6 linked regions of the Homo sapiens genome follow. The protein of the gene in region 1 interacts with the protein of each later gene in a pairwise test. Each region holds a gene or a part of one and is shown in the gene's direction. Other genes may lie near its edges.

Region 1 (4,152 bases):
ACCTGTAGGTTCTAATTTGTTTCTTGTTTGTTTCCTGACTATCTCCTGGCTCTGCCAGGAAACTTCCTAACTTTCAAATGCTGTACAACCCAAAAAAATGCTAGAAATATCAAAAGAAGTGTCTACAGATCCAGAAAAGACATTTATTGAATTTAATACAATGTCAGAATTGGTCAACTATGCTCAGAAACATAGGACCAAGTGTTCCCTAATTTGAGAGGGTAAATAAGTAACAACAGAAATAAGAGAAAAAACCATAGATATTTCAAATGATCCTGTTTTAATAATTGTCACTGAAAATTAAAGTCCGATCCAGATACCAAATCTGTTTCAACAATAATAGCTAGAGACAAGAGTAAAAATTTCTTTAAAGTTTTAAAACAGGTGGAAGAAGATCCAGAAATATTTATTCCAAGATTTGTAAGCGGGGATAAAACATGGCTACACTGGATAGTCCTGAAGAAAGAGCACAAAACAAAGGCTACCAAAAGGTGGCAGCACTCCAGTCAAAGACAGAGAGGACCAGTCAAGAGAAGAGGTCATGGCAACAGTTTTGGGGAATGCTCAAAAGATATGACTAAAAGACTTTTTGAAGGGCCAAACCAAGATCAAATATGCTTACTAACAGAGTTTTTGAGAAAACTAGCCAAAGCATGAGCAGAAAAACCATTACCAGAGAGTTCTACCTAATCATGAAAAAGTTCTTGCTGTAGCATTTCACTGAACAAAGGGCAGTTTGGCAAGAGTTTCAAAAGGAGATCATGAGGCGTCCACCTTGCAGTCATGATGTGGAACCTGCTGACTTCTATTTATTTCCTCGTATTAAAAATTCTGCAAACGGCACCCAGTTTTCTTCAGTTAATAATGGAAAAAAGATTTCTTGGAAATAGTTAAATTCCCAGAAACATCAGGGCTTGAGGGACAAGGCGGGGTCAAGACAGTGCTCGAACTACTGTCTCGAAATTGATGGAGCAGATGTTAAGAAATAAAATCTACCGGTTTTATTTTTGTCTTTTAATCCCTGTTTTGACAAATTTGGGAAGTCCCCTCACACAACATCAGTCCTAGGCAAAGAGTTGTTATCCTGTATTGGTTCTTCTTTCTATGATTTTGTCTTGCTGTGTTATTTTCTGTTTTACTCCCAAGAAGATTCAGTCTGTGTTTTTTGGAATTCACAGATGTGGAACCTGCGAACATGGAAGGTCAACGGTAAAACTCAGTGGGGTGTGTCGAGGCTGAAATTAACCTAATCAACCTCTGGGGCACAGCAGTCCACCTGGCGTGGACCGTCCCGATTGTCTGCATTGTGCTGACGGCATGAGTACGTATGGGGGCGGGGCAGCCCAAGAGCTAAGAGGGTCAGGGCTAGAGCCGTGAGTGTCAGCCTGGGATGGGCTACATAAGGCCCAGCTCTGGCACCAGAGCTTCATTCTTTGTTGCACAGCAAACTGCAGAGGTCACTCCAGGCTGTGGCTCCACATCCCGAGGAACAAAAGCGGGCCTGCTCAGCTGTCTGCAAGGACGGCCGTTCCAGACCAAGTGGCCTGCTGCTCCGAGGACCCAGCTCGCTCCAGGCTGTGACTCCACATCCCGAGGTCGCTGCCTGGCGACCGGGCAGCGAGGACCGGCCACCCCAGACTTCCTGTCCCGCAGCCCCAAAGACAGAGCTGCGACCGCCGGGACAGCGACGCCTGCACAGCTCTGGTGAGATGGCGGCAGGGTCCACTACGCTGCACGCAGTGGAGAAGCTGCAGGTGCGTCTGGCCACTAAGACGGAGCCGAAAAAGCTAGAGAAATATTTGCAGAAACTCTCCGCCTTGCCCATGACGGCAGACATCCTGGCGGAGACTGGAATCAGAAAGACGGTGAAGCGCCTGCGGAAGCACCAGCACGTGGGCGACTTTGCCAGAGACTTAGCGGCCCGGTGGAAGAAGCTGGTGCTCGTGGACCGAAACACCCGGCCTGGCCCACAGGACCCTGAGGAGAGCGCTTCCCGACAGCGCTTCGGGGAGGCTCTTCAGGACCAGGAAAAGGCCTGGGGCTTCCCAGAAAACGCGACGGCCCCCAGGAGCCCATCTCACAGCCCTGAGCACAGACGGACAGCACGCAGAACACCTCCGGGGCAACAGAGACCTCACCCGAGGTCTCACAGTCGCGAGCCCAGAGCTGAGAGAAAGTGCCCCAGAATAGCCCCAGCTGATTCCGGCCGCTATCGGGCCTCTCCAACGCGCACAGCTCCCCTCCGGATGCCCGAGGGCCCTGAGCCCGCTGCGCCCGGGAAGCAACCCGGAAGAGGCCACACTCACGCGGCTCAGGGCGGGCCTCTGCTGTGTCCAGGCTGCCAGGGCCAACCCCAGGGGAAAGCCGTTGTGAGCCACAGCAAGGGGCACAAATCGTCTCGCCAGGAAAAACGCCCCTTGTGTGCCCAGGGAGATTGGCACTCCCCTACTTTGATCAGGGAGAAATCATGCGGGGCCTGCTTAAGAGAGGAAACCCCAAGGATGCCCTCCTGGGCAAGTGCCAGGGACAGGCAGCCTTCGGACTTCAAGACAGACAAGGAAGGGGGGCAAGCTGGCAGCGGCCAGCGTGTCCCTGCCTTGGAGGAGGCTCCAGACAGTCACCAGAAGAGGCCTCAGCACAGTCACTCGAACAAGAAGAGGCCCAGTCTAGACGGCCGGGACCCAGGAAATGGGACACACGGCCTGTCGCCCGAGGAGAAAGAGCAGCTTTCCAACGACCGAGAGACTCAAGAGGGGAAGCCACCGACTGCTCATTTGGACAGAACGTCCGTGAGCTCCCTCTCTGAGGTGGAGGAGGTAGATATGGCTGAGGAATTCGAGCAGCCCACTCTGTCATGTGAAAAATACCTCACCTACGATCAGTTGCGGAAGCAAAAGAAAAAGACTGGAAAATCTGCCACCACTGCACTTGGAGATAAACAAAGGAAAGCAAACGAATCCAAGGGCACTCGTGAGTCCTGGGATTCGGCTAAGAAATTGCCTCCTGTCCAGGAAAGCCAGTCAGAGAGGCTGCAGGCGGCCGGCGCTGATTCCGCCGGGCCGAAAACGGTGCCCAGCCATGTCTTCTCAGAGCTCTGGGACCTCTCAGAGGCCTGGATGCAGGCCAACTACGATCCGCTTTCGGATTCTGACTCCATGACCTCCCAGGCAAAGCCAGAAGCACTCTCTTCACCAAAGTTCCGGGAGGAAGCTGCTTTCCCTGGACGCAGAGTGAATGCTAAGATGCCGGTGTACTCGGGCTCCAGGCCTGCCTGCCAGCTCCAGGTGCCGACGCTGCGCCAGCAGTGTGCCCAGGTGCTTAGAAACAATCCGGACGCCCTCAGCGACGTGGGAGAGGTCCCCTACTGGGTTCTTGAACCTGTTCTGGAAGGGTGGAGGCCCGATCAGCTGTATCGCAGAAAGAAAGACAATCACGCACTCGTTAGAGAGACAGACGAATTACGGAGGAATCATTGTTTCCAGGACTTCAAGGAAGAAAAGCCACAGGAAAACAAAACTTGGAGGGAGCAGTACCTGCGGCTTCCGGACGCCCCAGAGCAGCGGCTGAGAGTAATGACAACGAATATCCGATCTGCACGTGGAAACAACCCCAACGGCAGAGAGGCAAAGATGATCTGTTTCAAATCTGTGGCCAAGACGCCTTATGATACTTCAAGGAGGCAAGAGAAGTCTGCAGGAGACGCTGACCCCGAAAATGGGGAGATCAAGCCAGCCTCCAAGCCCGCGGGAAGCAGCCACACTCCCTCCAGCCAGAGCAGCAGCGGCGGTGGCAGAGACAGCAGCAGCAGCATCCTTCGCTGGCTCCCTGAGAAGCGGGCCAACCCCTGCCTGAGCAGCAGCAATGAGCACGCGGCGCCCGCGGCCAAAACCCGGAAACAGGCTGCCAAGAAAGTGGCCCCGCTGATGGCCAAGGCAATTCGAGACTACAAGAGAAGATTCTCCCGACGATAAACTCAGGACTTGCCTTGCAGATAAAATCTGGGGGGATTTTTGCATTGGCAAAGTCAATGCGGGTTGGGGAACGAAACTTCCAATGGACACCAGAACCTTTAACTTGGTGCAAAGTTGAGCCTTTGAATTCTGCAGGTGTCATGTGCTGGCCCTGTGATTTTGCCTCCCACACCCAGCCACT
Region 2 (3,500 bases), on another chromosome or scaffold:
ATAATGTTTTACTATTTGAATTTTTTTTTTAATGTGGCACAATTCTTTTAAGGTTTCAGGTACGTTCACCAACTTTCTTTCAAAAATCCCGGGACCAGCATTGGTACATTACTCAGTTGGAAGCTGCACAGACTAGTTATATCCAACAAATAAACAACCTTAAAGAGGTAAGAAAATATCTATTTCTGTTTTGGTGTTTCCTATTGTCCTTTTGGCTTGTTATATTTGTAATTAGATTTTATATATTTTATTGCTATTTGTAATTTTGTAATTTGTAATTAGAAAAAAAATCTAGTTATCTTGTTCCCCATCCTTACCAGTTCTGCAGTGTCCAGTTTAGTAGACACTAGCCACATACGGCCATGTAAATTTTTATTTTACTTTATTTATTTATTTTTTTTGAGAAGGAGTCTCGCTCTGTTGCCCAGGCTGGAGTGCAGTGGTGCAATCTCGGCTCACTGCAAGCTCCGCCTCCTGGGTTCACGCCATTCTCCTGCCTCAGCCTCCTGAGTAGCTGGGACTACAGGCGCCTGCCACCACACCGGGCTAATTTTTTTGTATTTTTAGTAGAGACAGGGTTTCACAGTGTTAGCCAGGATGGTCTCGATGTCCTGACCTCGTGATCTGCCCACCTCGGCCTCCCAAAGTGCTGGGATTACAGGCATGAGCCACCACGCCCTGCCACTTTATTTTTATTTTTTTTTATTTTGGAGACAGGTCGGACTCACTCTTGTTGCCAGGCACAATTTCCACTAACTGCAGCTTCAACTTCCCAAGCTCGGGTGATCTTCCCACCTTAGCCTCCCAGGTAGCTGGGACTACGAGCATGTGTCATGGCTAGTTTTTGTTTTTGTGGAGATGGGTTTCTCCATGTTGCCCAAGCTGGTCTTGAACTCCTGGGCTCAAGCAGTCTGCCTGCCTTGGCCTCCCAAAGTGCTGGGATTACAGGTGTGAGCCACTGTGCCTGGTCTGTAAATTTAGCTTAATTAAAATTAAAAATTTAGTTCCTTAGTTGCAGTAGCCACATTTCAAGTGCTTGCATTGGTTACTGCAAATCTAGAGCATTTCCATCATTGCATAAAGTTGTTTTGAACAGTGTGGCTGTAGTTTGAGGTAAGCTGTTTGTGTTTCTGTCAGTGACTTAGTTTCTCTTCCACAAGTTATCTTGGATTTAGAGGATTCTAGGCTATAGCACAATTAAAAGTTGTCCCATCTTGAACTCTTACTATTGTTGAATGAGCACTGGGGAAGATTAATTGATGAATTTTTATTTTACAGTGGTAAACTAAGGAATGTTTCATTTCCCTTAGGAAGTTAGGGTGTGGCAGGAGGTTTGGAGTGCTGAGAGTCGTTAATAGGTCAGGGAGGAAAATGTGAATAAATACATGCTTTCAGAGATTTTCATGTTAAATGTGCTATTTAAAACTGCCTGTATTCACTATACTGTTTGCTAATTGTATGTTTAGCTTAGGCTGGATATGAAAGAAGGAGGATGAGCATAAATGGGGCAGTTTATCTTTGTCATCAATTTTTTTTTATAAATAAAAGGCAGTAGGGATTCAGAGAAATGGTTTAAGAAATGGTGCCAAGTGAGGTGGCTCATTCCTGTAATCCCAGCATGTTGGGAGGCCGAGGCCAGAGGAACATTTGAGCCCAGGGGTTCAAAACCAGCTTGAGCAACATAGCAAGATACCGTCTCTAAAAATAAATAAAAATGAAATTAGCCAAGCATGGTGGCACACACCTCCAGTCCCAGCCACTTGAGAGGCTGAGGCAGTAGGATCGTTTGAGCCCAGTAGTTCAAGGCTTGCAGTGAGCTATGATGGCACCACTGCACTTCAGCCTGGGCAACAGAGTGAGACCATTCTCAAAAAATAAATAAAGCAATGGTTTTAGAAACATCTGGATGCATTTTTTTTTCACTTGAGACATCTTTTACTGTGCCAGTGAGCTGTGGCTAATATTTGTGCTTTTCTTGTTTTAAAAGAGACTTACTATTGAGCTGTCTCGAACTCAGAAGTCAAGAGATTTGTCACCACCAGATAACCATCTTAGCCCCCAAAATGATGATGCTCTGGAGACACGAGCTAAGAAGTCTGCATGCTCTGACATGCTTCTCGAAGGTGGTCCTACTACAGCTTCTGTAAGAGAGGCCAAAGAGGATGAAGAAGATGAGGAGAAGATTCAGAATGAAGATTATCATGTAATAATGAGGCCAGTTTTAGATTTTTGTGTTTGATTAAAAAAAAACAGTAGCATCATGGCTTTTAACATATTATGTGCTAAAACAGTAGGCTAAAAATATTGTCCATTGATTTCCATTAGTAATGTATGTATGCCCTTATGTAAATGTTAATAAGTCAGAAGTTGTTGAATCAAAGCATTTCAAGGTTGTGAAAAAAACAATACATTGTATAAAACAAACCGTGATACACATTTTAAAACCTAAACTACCATACATTGTGGATTTTAAAAATGTGTTCTGGCCGGGTGCGGTGGCTCACACCTGTAATCCCAGCACTTTGGGAGGCCAAGGTGGGTGGATCACATGAGGTCAGGAGTTCGAGACTATCCTGGCCAACATGGCCAAACCCTGTCTCTACGAAAAATACAAAAATTAGCTGGGTGTGGTGGTGCTTGCCTGTAATCCCAGCTACTTGGGAGGCTGAGGTAGGAGAATCACTTGAACCTAGGAGGCGGAGGTTGCAGTGAGCCAAGATTGTGCCACTGCACTCCAGCCTGGGAGACAGAGCAAGACTCTGTCTCAAAGAAAAAGAAAAAAAAAAGGTGTTCTATTTTCATTCACTGAAACTAGTACATGCCTTATCATTACTTACGTAGGTAGACTGATTTAGGATTCGGTAGCTAGCCAGGTTCTATCCCAGCTAAACAACAGTCAGAATCCAGAATAAGAGTTCAAGAAGTAGTTGATATTTTTACATAAGAAGGGATGCATAGACAGTTGGTTTTTTTGTAGTAATTTTTAAGATGAGAGACTTCAGTTTTAAGTTAAAATGAAGGACCCAGTGGGTCGAGAGAATGCACAGATTAAGTGCTTTGATAAACTAGAGATAATAGGGTTTGGAATGGAGCAGTCAGGTGAAGCAGTTAACCTTTGATAAACTGAGTTAAAGGAAGGGTGGAGTTTGCAGGTAAGGCAGCTGAAAAGTTGGGGAAGTTTTTGCTTAATAGTGGGTATTTTTTTTCTGTGCAGATAGGTGACAGTGTTAATTAATGACCTTGATAATGGTAAAATTAGGTAGAATTGAGGAGTGATGGTTTGAAACGTTACTCTGTGAGGAAGCTGATGTGGAATATGTGAAGGATTCCAGTCACACTGAGGGCCCAGCTGAAGGCGGCACGCATAAGTTAGTAAAATGATATCAGTCAGTGTGGTTGTGTGATTTTTCTCTACAGGGCTCAGCAGCTGAGGCACAGGAGCAGAAAATAGATTTTTGAAAACTGTATTATTCTTTGGTGCTTGGTTTATGGGCTGGATG
Region 3 (4,241 bases), on another chromosome or scaffold:
CACCTCTGTCTTACATTGGTGAGCAAACCACTTCCCGCACAGATATTGATGTGGATACTGTCAGTTCCTGATTAATTGGAAAAGCAATAGAAGTGAAATTTATTACACTCTATTAAGACGTGTACACTTCCAAAAGTAATGCAGAATGATCCCATCAGAAGTTCATCTGCTCCTTTTCTTCCCATCAGAACTGTAGAGTATCACAGCTGTATTTTTGCATGCCCCCGGGATCTAAATCGGACCCCCAGGACACAGCACCAGCTGCTCAGGAACCAGGAGACTTGCCCAGGGACCGCCTGCAGAGATGGTTCCCCGGAGAGCTCCTCTGTGTTATATGCTCTAGTGAGATCCAGAGTCTGCAGTCATCCACAATAACCACCACACTTACAGCAGTGAAAAATCATGGCACAGTAGTCAAGACACATCCGAGGAAGGATCCTCCGCGGGTCTGACGCCCAATAGGTCTCAGTAAAATGTTCAGTGAAGGTTGAGTAGAGGAGTTTACATAGCAGCAGTCACGAGAAAATTTTATCGCCTCATTGTTTCCGTTGAGAAAATAGGGACAGTATTTGTTAAATCACGGCACAAAAATGAAGTGTTTCTAATATTTTTAATTTTTTTTTTTGAGACGAAATCACGCCCCGTCGCCCAGGCTGGAGTGCAGTGGGCGATCTTGGCTCACTGCAACCTCCGCCTTCCGGGTTCAAGCGATTCTTGTGCCTCAGCCTCCCAGATAGCTGGGATTACAGGCTCCCATCACCATGCCTGGCTAATTTTTGTATTTTTAGTAGAGACGGGTTTTCACCATGTTGGCTTGGCTGGTCTCGAACTCCTGAGCTCAAGTGATCCACCCGCCTTGGCCTCCCAAAGTGCTAGGATTAACAGGCGTGAGCCACCGCGCCCGGCCTAACATTTTAAATTTCTTAGTGGTTTGGAAAGAAATCACCATAGAAGTACTCGCCTTTCCTATCCTCTGTTTATGTTTGTTTAGAAAAGAGCAAAACAAACCCAAGTGTTTGCTAATTCCTAACATTTAAACTGGAAAGACTGCCCGTAAGAAAAGACTTCTTAAAATTTTTAGACCATCTTGAGATGACGCCTTGCCTCCCGCCTCCCCAGGCGGCGCAGTGGGAGTGAGTACGCGGGGCTTAGTGTCGTGAGAGCTGCCCTGGGAAGGGGACTTGGAGTGCGCAGTCAGCTAGTGACGCGGTCTCCTAAGGGCCCCCAGGACAGCTTGAGTAGCCCCCGCGGGCAGGCCCCCGACCCGGGTTCCGCGTTGACCCCTCAGAGCGGCCTGCTGCTCCCCCACGCGCCAGAACTGGCGACAGGGCCACTTTAAGGGCGCCTGGGGCGTGCTCGCCCTCAGCTGCGGCCAGGAGCCATTAGTGCAGGGGGCGGGCCCGGGACGCAGCGGCTGTGGAGCTCCTCCTGCTGGGAGGCTGCCCCAGGACCCAGCACGTGCGCAGCGGCCATGGCTTCCTCAATTATCTGCCAGGAGCACTGCCAGATCTCGGGCCAGGTAAGAGGCTGTGGAAGGGGAGGCAGCTGCGTTTATAACCTCGCGGGCGGGCCCTAGGTCGGTGGTCCCCTCGGCCCTCAAAGCCCGGCCTGGGGAGCTCTCATTGTCGGGGAACTGTGGGGAGCGAATAGCAGGAAGGGCCCCTTCCAGGACGCGAGTCCACTCTCCCCCGGCGCCCCGAGCTGGGGAAGCGCCGACCCGGCTTCTGAGGGTGCCCCCGGGTGCCACCAGGCCCTTGGGGCCTGAGGTTGGGGGACGGGGCTGATTTATCTCGGGAGAGGAGGCCAAGGAAGAAAGAGAACTGAATCGTGTTATAAAGAAAACCCATTAACTGATGAAATGTTCAGTGAAAATTATCTTGAATCCAAAAATTGCAGATTGCATCACATCAATTACTCAATAAATGTGAATTCTCCAACTAAAAAAAAAAAAAAAAAATCTTAGCCCTTGACGTTTCCCCAACTTATTTTTCGAGCAGAAGGCCACTTGTGAAGTTAGCTACCTAGAAACACAATTTAGTAGGCACTCTGGGGCTGGTGGCTGGACAAAAATGTGAACGATGATTTTTATTTTTAATATAAGAAAGTTTATTTAGGCGCGTTATTTTCCTGCATTCCCGTCTCTGCACAGCTGGGCATGCTTATTTTCAGTTTGGGCACTGGCGTGGCATCCCAAAGTGTCCTTCGTGGAGCTTCCCCCCAAACAGGCAACTTTGTGTGGAACCAAAGCCGTGGTGGGAACGGGACCTGCTCTGCACGCATTTGCCACCTCCATGGAAATCAAAAAGCCCGCTGGCCTCTCTTGAAAGCACCTTATTTTTCAGCCCCTTTAGCAAAGCACAAAATCACTTTTGTAACTGTTTTCGATAAAAGTGAAAGGTGATGATTACCCCACTAGGAGGAAAGCGTAGGCGAAACCTCCCCACGCCAGAAAGCAAGGCCAGCTGGGGAGGGGGGCTTTCATCTTAGTATTTTCCGCATCTTGATAAATAGGAGAGAGCAATCTTTTGTGCTGAGTGTAGTCTTATTACCTCTTAGAATGCTCTGCAAACTTAATTTCATCTCTTCTTAAGAGCAAGCTTTCTGAAATGGAATTAGGATCACTTTGAAGTGGACCCGTTTAACAGGTTTTCTTAATTTTTCAAGATAGAGGAACCTATTTAAACTCTAAGGAAAAATAGTATTTTATGGTGCAGGATTAGGCAAAGCTGCACAAAATGAATTCTGAATGAAATATCTGATTATCTAGTAGAACATAAATAATTGTGGTTTCCTCCCCTTAAGAGAGTGTGAAGCCCCAACTGACCCCTTTGTGTGCCTTTGTGAGAAAAGCCGCTTGCTCAGTTTCTCCAGATAGAGCTGTTTAAATCCCTTGACTCCTGAGGAAACTGAAGGCCCGCAATTGCCCCATGAGAGCCTCAGCCCTGCAGCTGCTGCTGATTGTGGGCTGCTCTGCTCCTGGTGATAAGAGTGACATAAATAACAACTCACTAAAATGTAGGAGTGATTTGCTTTAAGCACTTCAGCACCTGCTGTTACTAATTAAGGGTTTAGCCTGCCACAGATTGCAAATGGAAATCCAGTGTTTTAAAAATTGTAGAGACTAGAGTGCCCTGCATGTTACTGTGATCACAGAAATGAAACAGTGGATGAAGTGTCTTGGTGACAATGATGTCGTGTTATTAAAACCACCCACACTTAAAGGGTATGTACCAAGGTGTTAATAGGGCTTACCCTGAGTGGTGGAATTACACTTTATTTTCTTTTTTGAATTTTTTAGTGTTTCCCAGTGAATACATGTTACTTTCGTTTACAAAGGTGTAGTAAGCAATTCAAACAGAAAAAGATATTTCATCAAACGAAGCCTAACACTGGTTCAGATTACTGCTTGCAGGTGAAAATCTTAGATGTACTAAAAGGCAGTTTTCCAAGCAGAATATACTAGAAACATTTATTCCTTTTTCTTTTTGTCAATAGATCTTTTTTATCGCCTGTGTTCATATTACATTGTCAACAACATATTTTAAACTAAATAAATATTCAGATTTATGTTGATTATAAACTATTCTGTTAATTTGAGTTATGGAACTGGGATAGTGGACTTGAGCAGTGTTCTGATTTGTCCATTAACATTCCAAGTGTGCTATGGCACTGATTTTGTAAAGCAGAGAAAGAAGCATTTGGCAAAAGAGCAAATCAGTTCTTTCCAGAGCTGCTTTATGTCATACCCGCTCTGTGCCATGGTGCAAGATGCTATGCAAAAACTTCAGACTCCTGCACAGAACGGTGGGTTAGTGGTGCTTGTTTCTCCTCATCCCTTTCCAGATCATCTTCCTACCTACCCTCAGATTTCTCCCGACTTCCCACTATGCATGTTCTGCCCTTCATAACTCTTTCTTGACTTTTTTTCCCCCCAAAAGGCCGAGAGATTCTGGGGACACTGGAACTGAGCCTCTAAGGGGAGGATAGTGCAGTCAGAATGCCATGTGCTAGCTAGGGAAAGGCTCAAGCTAGGCAGTTGATTTCTATTATTTTAAAGCTTATGCTCTGCAGGAGGCCCTGTTTCCTGAGCACTGTGATTCAAACAGTGCAGAGCCCAGCATGGACACATTTTCCTCTCTCCCCTGGTCCTTCCCCTGCTAGGTTGATTTGACGTTTTCTGTGTTCTTTGTGCTCAGTTCGGTATTACTTGCAAAAACATGGCAATAACTACCACCTGCAGG
Region 4 (3,248 bases), on another chromosome or scaffold:
GACTATGCAGTCCAACCCTAGCCAATAGGGGAACGACATAGCAGTAGGGACTACCTGCGTCAGAGATAAGAACCCCTTCCTCTCCCTTGATCAGGTATGCTCTCACCATTGCTCCATCTGCGAGACACACCTTTCTATAGAAGCAAAATTGCCTTGATGAGAAAATTCATGTTCGAGTGCTATTTCTTTTGCTGCACCGAAAATTTATTTCTAATACCCACCACCTCTAGGAAATACCTTCTACCATTCACAGTCTCTTCCCACCTCAGGACCGTTAGAACATTCAGTATCTCCACCATAAACTCATTTTATACTTCAACATTCAACATTTAACAAACATGTACAATGTATATGTCATGTGAAACGTTTTCTCATTTAAATCTTTTGTATCCATGTTTTATAATTTCTTCCCAACTAGTTCTTCCCACTGAATTTATTTCTTTCTCTCCCGCATCCTTGTCAAATCTTTTCTATTCTTCAAACTCAAAGACTTTTTGTTTAATCCATTAAGCTGTATATTAGAATACAGATTTTCCAGGCATATACTATACTGACCAAGTTACCATCTCTAGGAGCAGGCCCCTAGTCTGCATCTCCAGAGGTAGGGCCCAAGAACCTGTTTCTACCAAAGATCCCATATGATGATTAGGCAGCAAGCCCAGTGTCATATTCAGACTTTCTTGTAAACCATTGCTGTACAACTTCTAGCCCAATGCTTTGCTTGTGATAAGATTCTTAATAAAATGTGTGTTATTGCATCAGTCAGTAGTCAACTTAGTGAAATGTTTAGTAAAAGAACCTCAGGCCGGGCACGGTGGCTCACACCTGTAATCCCAGCAATTTGGGAGGCTGAGATGGGCAGTGGGCAGATCACAAGGTCAGGAGTTTGAGACCAGCTTGGCCAACATGGTGAAACCACATCTCTACTAAAAATACAAAAAATTAGCCAGGTGTGGCGGTGTGCATCTGAAATCCTAGCTACTCAGGAGGCTGAGGAAGGAGAATCACTTGAACCTGGGAGGCGGAGGTTGCAGTGAGCCGAGATCGCGCCATTGCACTCCAGCCTGGGTGATAGAGTAAGACTCCCTCTCAAAAAACAAAAAAAAGAACCTCATACTTGCATGAATACAGTGGCCTCTATCTTTTCATATTGCCACCCACCCTAGAAATGAAGAACATATTCATCTCCACAGTGTTTAGCAGGTCATTCTGCTCAGAAGAATTGACTCCTCTTCAGTGACTCCCCAGTGCCTAAAAGATAAACTCCAAATTCATGAACTTCACAGTTGATGTTTTCTACAATAACATCTCCAAGCTTTGCCTCTATAATTTTCTTATACAAACCTACTAAACGTTTTGCTTTCCCTCTTCTGTATTCCTACTCTTACCCAATTGTTCAGACTGTTTCTCTGTTCGTAATTTCCTATTTCTTTCCCTCCCACATCCTAGTCAAATCTTTTCTATTCTTCAGAATTTCATGTTTGCATTAAGCTTCCCTTGACCATTGCAACCATCTGTATTTTTCTCATCTCCTATTTTATGAAGCACTTCTATCATTTTTCTTTTTTATCCTTATTTTCTCTGTGACTTTTAAAATTTAATAACATGTACATTGTTAATATTTAGCATTACATTTAAGTTTATTGTTTCTAATTTATCTTATTTTTAAATTTAAAAATTAAGCTATCTTGAAGTAGAAATCATTAACAGTTGTATTCTAGAAACCAAGTATGTCAGTGCTTTTGCATATAGTAAATGCCCAGTAAATTTTTGTGTAATGGAGAATGACGATTTTTATTATGTGGTCTTTCATCTTCTTAGACAGTAATAGTAACTTTTGATCCCTCAGGAGGACTCTTGAAACTAAAGAAGACCCTTTCCAAAGCAGTTCTGATAATATATTCTATCCACAGATGGCTACAGAACCAAAGAAAGCTGCAGCCCAGAACTCTCCAGAGGATGAAGGACTTCTGATAGTGAAGATAGAAGAGGAAGAATTTATCCATGGGCAGGACACTTGCTTACAGAGAAGTGAACTCCTTAAGCAGGAGCTCTGCAGGCAGCTTTTTAGGCAGTTCTGCTACCAGGATTCTCCTGGACCTCGCGAGGCACTGAGCCGCCTCCGGGAGCTCTGCTGTCAGTGGCTGAAGCCAGAGATCCATACCAAGGAACAGATTCTGGAACTGCTGGTGCTAGAGCAGTTCCTGACCATCCTGCCAGGAGATTTGCAGGCCTGGGTACATGAACATTACCCAGAGAGTGGAGAGGAGGCAGTGACCATACTAGAAGATTTGGAGAGAGGCACTGATGAAGCAGTACTCCAGGTGCACAGGGGATGGGAGATCTAAGACCTCCATAATGGATAAAGTTCCACGGTGGGAGGAGAGGCCCGAGATTGCATATCTAGCTTGCAGGAGCTGTTGGTTCAGTGTGCATTTATGTCTCCTTTCCTGTCTGTTTGATTCCACACTACATTTTACAATTAAATCAGACTCGATTCTTCCTTCCCCAGTTTTGCATTTCTATGGGAGTTTCTCTTTGTTGTTAGAAGACGTTTAACACAGGGATTCTTTTATAAGCCCAAATGTACTTTATTTTTCTCAGGTTCAAGCCCATGAACATGGACAAGAAATATTCCAGAAAAAAGTGTCACCTCCTGGACCAGCACTTAATGTCAAGTTACAGCCAGTGGAGACCAAGGCCCATTTTGATTCATCAGAACCCCAGCTCCTATGGGACTGTGGTGAGGGGCAGAATGCCATATAGTGCACATCACTAAAGAAACAGGGGAATGAATCTCCCTCCACAAACTAGTCTTGGTAACTGTAGATGGTCCTTTCCTTTATTACCCAATGAAAAGAGAGAACTTGTGGCCAGGTGCGGTGGCTCACTCCTGTAATCCCAGCACTTTGGGAGGCCAAGGCAGGTGGATCACGAGGTCAGGAGATCAAGACCATCCTGGCTAACATGGTGAAACCCCATCTCTACTAAAAATACAAAAAATTAGCCGTAGCACCTGTAGTCCCAGCTACTCGGAAGGCTGAGGCAGGAGAATGGCGTGAACCTGGGAGGCGGAGCTTGCAGTGAGCTGAGACTGCGCCACTGCACTCCAGCCTGGGCGACAGAGCAAGACTCCATCTCATAAAGGAAAAAAAAAAGAGAGAGAGAACTTGTTTTCCTGTGAGTCTTTGGCCAATGGTAGGGGAAAAGATAATTTTGTTCCTTATCCAGAATATTTCCAAAACACA
Region 5 (3,500 bases), on another chromosome or scaffold:
TCTCTATCTGTCGCCAGGCTGGAGTGCGGTGGCGTGATCTTGGCTTACTGCACCCTCTGCCTCCTGGGTTCAAGCGATTCTTCTGCCTCAGCTTCCCGAGTAGCTGGGACTACAGGCGCATGCCACCATGCCCAGCTAATTTTTGTATTTTTAGTAGAGACTGGGTTTCACCATGTTGGCCAGGCTGGTCTCGATCTCTTGACCTTGTGATCTGCCCACCTCAGCCTCCCAAAGTGCTGAGATTATTACAGGCATGAGCCACCGCGCCCGGCCAATGCATGGTCTTAAGAATGGATGAGACGATGCTAAGAGCTGTTTTGGAAGGCGTGAGGGTGTTGCCAGCTTCCAGGAAAGGAAGGGGTTCTCATCAACTGGATGTTACATGTGCTGTTTTCCAGGGCCTTAATAAACCACAGTGACTGAACAGAGACTTGCAACCATTTTCAACATTTGACAGAAAGTTTGGTCCTATTTGGTCATCTCAGAATTGAAGCTTGGATCATTGCTACAAGTGAAAACAAATTGATCAGAAATGTCAAGAAAAAAATCTGATATTGTAGCGCTTCCATGGTAGTTCTTAGATTCACAGGATGCCAAACTGGCTTTTGCCAGATTAAGAATTATTTCCTTGCTATTAGATGCCAAGCTGGGAACAGAGGGGAATGTGTTTTTATAATTTAAAATCCCTGGTCACTCAGCATTTTATTTGTCTCTTTCTCCTACTCCTGATATCAGTAACTCTTATTTTATCTTGATTTGTTTGTCTGTATAGTTAGTTTTCTGACAAATAATTGAGGATTTTTTTCAACTACCGCATTGAGGTAAATCCACAGGATTACTATGCCTTAAAAAATTTAAAGAATGCTTGTCACATATGCTCCTATCATTCACCAGTTGTTCTTTATTTTCAAATATGATTGTCTACATCTTTCCCTGGCCACTGAAAAAACTTGATGAAATATATAGCTGAATGTAAATGCCTTGTAAGTATAATGTGTGTTTTCAGCAGTGGCGCAATTACAGCTCACTGCAGCCTGGACCTCCTGGGCTCTAGTGATCCTCCTACCTCAGGTAGCTGGGCCACAGGCATGCACCAACCATACTTACCTAATGTTTGTATTTTTTTTTTTTTTTTTTTTTGAGACGGAGTCTTGCTCTGTTGCCCAGGCTGGAGTACAGTGGTGTGACCTCGGCTCACTGCAAGCTCCACCTCCCAGGTTCACGCCATTCTCCTGCCTCAGCCTCCCGAGTAGCTGGGACTACAGGCGCCCGCCACCACGCCTGGCTAATTTTTTGTATTTTTAGTAGAGACGGGGTTTCACTGTGTTAGCCAGGATGGTCTCGATCTCCTGACCTTGTGATCCACCCACCTTGACCTCCCAAAGTGCTGGGATTACAGGCGTGAGCCACCGTGCCCAGCCTGATGTTTGTATTTTGTAGAGACAGGGTCTCCCTATGTTGCCCAGGCTGGTCTTAAACTCCTGGGCTCAAGCCACCCTACCACCTTAGCCTCCCAGAGTTTTGGGATTATAGGCATGAGCCACTGTGCCTGGCCAACAGGCATTTTTGAGTACTCACAATTTGCTTAACATTGAGGACAGTCTCAAGACTTCCATCATCATCAGACTGCACATACTAGGATTAGCTGTTGCCTGTTGATGGAGGAACAAAATTGCTTTCCTATAGTGAAATTTTGGATGAAGTAGGGTTATTCAGAGAAACATAACCAGTAAGACACACACACACACACACACACACAAATACTCACTCACAGACATGGGATTTATTGTAAGGAATTGGCTCATAGGATTGTGGAGATTGAGAAGTCCTAAGTTCACTTAGTAAGCTATAGACCAAGGAGAGCCAATGGTATATTTCTAGTTCAAGTTCGAGTTTGAAGGCAGGAGAAGACCGATGTCCCAGCTTGAAGAGTCAGGCAGAGAAATGAATTCTCCCTTACTCAGTCTTTTTGTTCTATTCAGGCCTTCAGTGGGTTGGATGAGGCCCACCCACATTGGAAACGGCAATGTACTTTACTCAGTCTAGCAATTTAAATGTTAATCTCATCCAGAAACAACCTTGCACATACTCCCAGCATAATTTTTTTTCCACTGAGGCAATATATTTGTAAATACGTATTACATCGTTATAAAAAGAATCCCAGGATTTTTCTTCCTATGTGTTTTCGTCTTGCTTCTTCGTGGTCTATGATGCCAGCCGAGGTTGTCAGTACAGTGAAACCAAACTGGTGGGATGGGAGCAGGTTATTCTGCCATTTTTCTAGATCTTTGAGTTGCACGTCAAATCTGAGGCTGATTATTCCATACTTGTTTAGCCTGCCTGTGAGGTTCACAACAGTTTTCCCAGCTCTATGATCATCAGTGGTTTCAGATTTGCCAGTGTAACCATGCTTCATCATTATAGTTAGAAACTGGACGATGGGGCTGGGTGCGATGGCTCATGCCTGTAATCTCAGCACTTTGAGAGGCCAAGGTAGGCAGATCACTTGAGCACTTGAGGCCAGGAGTTCAAGATCAGCCTGGCCAACATGGCAAAACCCCATCTCTACTAAAAATACAAAAATTAGCGAGGCATAGTGGCAGGCGCCTGTAATTCCAGCTATTTGGGAGGCTGAGGCACGAGAATCTCTTGAACCTGGGAGGGAGAGGTTGTAGTGAACTGAGAAATGCACCAGTGCACTTTGGCCTGGGTGACGGAGTTGGGACTCCGTCTCAAAAAAAAAAAAAGAAAAGAAAAATAAAAATAAAAAAAAGAAAACGGACAGTTACTTTGGAGCTCGGCCTAATAAGAACCTGGCATTTACCTTGCTTTTCAGCTTTGTTGATGCTCTTGAGAGCATCAGCCAAGACATTCATGTGCACCACTGTGGTGGTATGGAAAGAGCCAGCGTAATTTTAACCAGATATCTGGACGTCCAATAGCCCGGACAAATTGATACATAAAATTAAGCTTCACAGAGTGTTGTGGAATTGTACAGATGGCTGTCACTACCCTAGAGAACATAAATTGTTTAGTATTCACCTAAATTAAAACAGGAGTAAAATCTTATTAAAGAAAGAAGCCCACATTCTGAAACAAAATGGATAATCAGCATTATCACCTTTTAGGGTAGGTGACATGCATATTGTAGAAAGATTGTGAGTTTGAAGTTAGACAAACTGAAGTTTGAATTGCGTTTCTGCTACTTATCAGCTCTAGATTTGGGGCAAGTAACTTGTCTGAGCTGTAATTTTGCGATCTGTAAAATTAAAAATACCTACTTTGTGTTGGTGTTTAGATTAGAGAAAAACGTATTAAAAATGTTTAGGATGCAGTAGCTATTCAATAAATAAAACTAGCCATTTGAAAGTTGACTGTGAGTAATGCTACATAGGCCATTTTGCCAGAAAGAGTCTTTTGTCTTTAAGTGATGTGACATTTTTTCATTGACTGATGGTAGTTACATTTTGTAGAGTCATCTCAGTATATAACTATGTCCT
Region 6 (4,221 bases), on another chromosome or scaffold:
GAGAATCGTTTGAACCTGGGAGGCGGAGGTTGCAGTGAGCCAAGATTGTGCCACTGCATTCCAGCCTGGGCAACAGAGCAAGAATTCGTCTCCAAAAAAAAACAAAACAAAACAAAACAAAACCACAAGGCGGGGGAGCTGGAGCATACATGTTTGAAGTAGAATCTTTGACAAGCTGTTCTGCATCCACTCCCATTTCTGTGCTTCCATATTTGTTTTCTTTCATTTTGTTTTCTAGAAAAAAAAATTTTTTTGGTAGAATTCTCTAGGAAAGCTACACTCCTGTGTCCTAGGGCCCAACAACAAGCAAGACAGGCATAACAGCTGGGAAACCAATCAGCTTAAACTGAGACAGACAATATCAAACAGGCATGTCAGGCCCCACGAGAACATCCACCCTAAATCCAGAAGGCATTATGACCACATCGCTTCAGCTGCCTGGATTTCAGGTATAAATTAGTTCTTCTACAAAGAGGGCACTTGGTCTGTAAACGGGTCCAAAGGTAAGAGTCCCACCGCTAAAGACCTATCTCTCTTCTACACTAACATGGGGGGGCAGTGGGGAAGAAAGGGGCGAGAAGAGGTATGGAGGTTTTGGGAGGGAGTGGGAGAATTGGAGGCTAGAGAGATCGTTTCTGTCCCACCATCTGTGTGACCCCAGTGCCCAGCACAATGCAGCCCACGGAAAGGCACTGGTCCTTTCATTGACCATTTACTGAGCATCTACTACATGCCAAAAAGCGAGATGGGTGCTGTGAAGGCAGAAACGGATTTGGAGATAATCTCCGCCAGGCATACTGAGGTCAAGGTTTTCGTTCGTTTGTTTAGAGAAGAGACGGAGAAGGTCAAGGTGTTTTTGTTTGTTTTGTTGTTGTTGTTGTTGTTGTTTAAGAGTCTTGCTCTGTGCTCAGGCTGGAGTGCAGCGGCGTGATCTCGGCTCACTGCAACCTCTGCCTCACGGGTTCAGGCAATTCTCCTGTCTCAGCTTCCCAAGTAGCTGGGATTACAGGCGCGCGCAACCACGCTCAGCTAATTTTTGTATGTTTTGTAGAGACAGGGTTTCACCATGTTGGCCAGGATGGTCTCGAACTCCTAGCCTCAAGCGATCATCCCCTCTCGGCCTCCCAAAGTGCAGGGATTACAGACGTGGGCTACCGCGCCTGGCCTATGCCAAGGTTTCAAGAAGGTTTAGAACTCAGTATCTGCTCCCCTATTTTCAACAGCGTAGTCAGTCCCTAAAATTGACCCGCTCCAGAGTGTACTGCGCAGGCGCCCGCTACCTCCGCGCTCTCTCCCGACGCCCAGCTCAGACGGTAAGTCCCGCATGCGCACTCCGCTTTCTCTCTGACGCACCCCCGGAAGCACTGTCAGTTTCGGGGGGCGGGACCGGGAAGCGTTTCCGGGGGCTGAAGGCACAGGCTGAATCTGTTGCGGCAGCTGAGGCTACAACAGGCCTGCGCCGGCGGCAGAGAGGATATCTTGGGCGGGGGATGTGAGCGCTGAGCCCTTGGCAGGTACTGCGTGGCCAGGACCACGGGCGGCAAGGGTAGGGGAGGAGAAGTCGGTGGGGGAGTTAAGGGCTCCTCAGCAGGCCCCGACGCTCGCGCCGCTGGCCCCGCCAGGCCCATTCCGTGGACCGGCATACCAAAGCCCCGCGCGGGAGGTTGGGGTCCCGGCGCTCCAGCTCCGAATCCCGCAGTCTTCTGCCCACACGGCGCGCAGACCGCGATACCGAGGCCTTTGGGGCAGCTTCTCGCCCAAGGTCACCCTCGCGGCGGCGGAGCTCCGCCGGCCACAGCGCTTAGAGATCCCGCCCCCGTCCGTCCGCTGGCCTTTCGGGGCGTAGGGTGGGCGCGGCTTGACGACCTCGGGTTCGAGCCACCAATGCCTGAGGCCTGACGAGCCGAGCTGGGAGAAAGACTGCGCCTGGACTTAGCTGATCTTCTGTTTAAGTAAAACATTCAGCATCCCCTGTTGCTGTCTCTGTCACCTGTTGTAACCTGCCCTTTTTGTCTTTCAGCTAGGTCGCTGTCAACCTGATATTTCTCTCCACTTTGTCTTTGTCGGGGTATCTGGATCCTGTTTTATATCTGTCTCCACCTTGCTTCTGTGTCTGTTCACCCTGTCTCTGCCACTCAGCCCTTACTCTAATTCAGGGCCTGTCAGTCTGGCTTTTTGGCCATCTGTCTGTTTCTCTCTTTCTGCCAACTTTGTTTTTGCCTCTTGTCTCTCTTTCCTGAGTTTGGGTGGGGCAGGGCTGCCCAGACCTCTGAGCCATGGAAGGTGACTCATGACCCCGTGAAGTTCCCTGCACTGGTGACACTCTCAGTGACTCGACCGCAGTTTGGCCTCAACTCTGACAGGTGTCGCCCAACATAAGTGTCAGAGTGCAGGAGAGCCTGTCAGGGAGACAGGAGGCCCATTTTAGGGCCAGAGCAGCTTGATGAGTCCTCTCCTTTTCTCGCCTGTGGTTTCTCAGGCCTGCACAGCTTCCCAAATGCCTTCGCTCTATCCACTCACCACAGGATGGTCTCCAGGGATCTCTGGAGCCTGCTCTTTGAGTTACAGCTGTTTAACAGGCCTGTCTACAGGCTAAGAAAGGATCAGACTGAGGTCTTTGGGGCTACTGGAACAGTAGCAGGGTTTCTGGGATAACTGCATGCTTAGTTCAGAGATTGTGTCAGCATTTTCAGTTAAATTATAAGAAACCTAATAATTGGGAATTTATTATTTGCTTTATAAAAGCACCACGGGAGAAATAAACCACACACAAAAGGACAAATGTTGTTTGAGAGCACTTAAATGAAGTACCTAGAATAAACCAATTAAGAGACGGAAAGTAGAATAGTTTACCAGGGGCTGGGGAGAGGAGTTATTGCTTAATGTTACAGAACAGAGTTTTGGGGGATGATGAATAAGGTCTGGAAATGGGTTGTGATGATTGCACAACATTGTGAATGTACTTCACTGAATTGGACTCTTAAAATTACTTAAAATTGTTAAGTCTTAAAGTTTTATGTATATTTTATACAATACAAAAAACAAAAACAGTATTCATTGGAGACTCCTGAAACCAATAAGCTCCTTTTACATGTAATTTTTCAAAATTCATTCTGTAGTTGTTAGGAACACAGTTGAACCTGTGTTTATTGATTCCTACTCTCTTTACAGCAGTGGGTACAGCTGAGGTTCTTAGAAAAGTTTAGTTAAATGAATTTGGTTAAAATCTTTCTCAGGCTTTCTACTTACTTTCTGCCCTGGCTCTCCTCCCTCTGCCTTTCTTGGAATCAGTGCAAGAATGTGCTCATAAGTAGGATACTTGATAATTATGCTTTTCACAGGAAGAAAACTCATAAGGTTGAAAAATAGCCCTTTTATTATAATGCAAAATTATGTGTTATTTCTTGAGTTTCGTTATGGGGGATGCCTTTGTGGTTTTTTTGTTTTTTAAAATCTCTTATTTAAGCTGTCTATTTGCCTTTAAGGTAGTTTATCAAGCTTTCTAATAAGATATCACAACTGAATTACTACTTTATTTAATTGAATCCTAGATGCTGTTATTTCATGTACCACCAAGGAAGGGAGAAACCCTGCTAATTGAACTATGGCTTAATACGCTCTTATCGTTTAGACTTTTTATTATTGAAAACACTTTTAGACTTAGACACTAAAACATGGTATCAATGCCTATTCTAATGCATATATACAAAGGAAAAATAAGAACACATTGGTTAAAGTGTTCGTTAAACTTAACATTCCAAGTTCTACTCTTCTGTGCACTTTTCAATTCAGAGTGTGTCCATATTTTTTCTAGAGTGTCATCCTTTGTGTCATCAAGAACATTGATGAGGACCTCAGCAGTTCTCTATCATTGTCTCAGGCAGTGACAGCTATTAAAACTGCCACCTGGTGATCACATTCTGATTTCAGGAATTTTAAAATGTGAAAAAATGCATGTCTGAAAATTAATTGAAGAGTATCATTTTCATGAACTTTTTTTTTCTTGTTTTTGTTTTTGTTTTGTTTTGTTTTTTTGAGATGGAGTCTCGCCCTGTCGCCCAGGCTAGAGTGCAGTGGTGCAATCCCGGCTCACTGCAACCTCCGCCTCCTGGGTTCAAGCGATTCTCCTGCTTCAACCTCCCGAGTAGCTGGGATTACAGGCGCCTGCCACCACACACAGCTAATTTTTGTATTTTTAGTAGAGACAGAGTTTCACCATGT

What was found.
Region 2: the proteins of ELOA2 (region 1) and TRIM37 interact in a two-hybrid assay, tested with the Homo sapiens proteins (one large-scale study listed by BioGRID and IntAct).
Region 3: the proteins of ELOA2 (region 1) and SOHLH2 interact in a two-hybrid assay, tested with the Homo sapiens proteins (one large-scale study listed by BioGRID).
Region 4: the proteins of ELOA2 (region 1) and ZNF165 interact in a two-hybrid assay, tested with the Homo sapiens proteins (one large-scale study listed by BioGRID and IntAct).
Region 5: the proteins of ELOA2 (region 1) and COIL interact in a two-hybrid assay, tested with the Homo sapiens proteins (one large-scale study listed by BioGRID and IntAct).
Region 6: the proteins of ELOA2 (region 1) and ZBTB43 interact in a two-hybrid assay, tested with the Homo sapiens proteins (2 studies listed by BioGRID and IntAct).

The regions. Positions count from the first base shown.
Region 1 is NC_000018.10:47,032,822-47,036,973, reverse strand, and holds the start of ELOA2 (elongin-A2), read left to right. Parts: upstream 1-1,352; 5' UTR 1,353-1,709; coding exon 1,710-3,971; 3' UTR 3,972-4,152. UniProt on the Homo sapiens protein: SIII, also known as elongin, is a general transcription elongation factor that increases the RNA polymerase II transcription elongation past template-encoded arresting sites.
Region 2 is NC_000017.11:59,047,881-59,051,380, reverse strand, and holds part of TRIM37 (E3 ubiquitin-protein ligase TRIM37), read left to right. Parts: intron 1-52; coding exon 53-167; intron 168-1,987; coding exon 1,988-2,203; intron 2,204-3,500. UniProt on the Homo sapiens protein: E3 ubiquitin-protein ligase required to prevent centriole reduplication. Probably acts by ubiquitinating positive regulators of centriole reduplication.
Region 3 is NC_000013.11:36,211,757-36,215,997, reverse strand, and holds the start of SOHLH2 (spermatogenesis- and oogenesis-specific basic helix-loop-helix-containing protein 2), read left to right. Parts: upstream 1-1,441; 5' UTR 1,442-1,471; coding exon 1,472-1,519; intron 1,520-4,241. UniProt on the Homo sapiens protein: Transcription regulator of both male and female germline differentiation. Suppresses genes involved in spermatogonial stem cells maintenance, and induces genes important for spermatogonial differentiation.
Region 4 is NC_000006.12:28,083,568-28,086,815, forward strand, and holds part of ZNF165 (zinc finger protein 165), read left to right. Parts: intron 1-1,913; coding exon 1,914-2,324; intron 2,325-2,604; coding exon 2,605-2,743; exon of another isoform or gene 2,744-2,791; coding exon of another isoform or gene 2,792-2,819; intron 2,820-3,248. UniProt on the Homo sapiens protein: May be involved in transcriptional regulation.
Region 5 is NC_000017.11:56,951,051-56,954,550, reverse strand, and holds part of COIL (coilin), read left to right. Parts: intron 1-2,107; exon of another isoform or gene 2,108-2,441; intron 2,442-2,787; exon of another isoform or gene 2,788-2,903; intron 2,904-3,500. UniProt on the Homo sapiens protein: Component of nuclear coiled bodies, also known as Cajal bodies or CBs, which are involved in the modification and assembly of nucleoplasmic snRNPs.
Region 6 is NC_000009.12:126,803,619-126,807,839, forward strand, and holds the start of ZBTB43 (zinc finger and BTB domain-containing protein 43), read left to right. Parts: upstream 1-1,421; 5' UTR 1,422-1,514; exon of another isoform or gene 1,515-1,952; intron 1,953-4,221. UniProt on the Homo sapiens protein: May be involved in transcriptional regulation.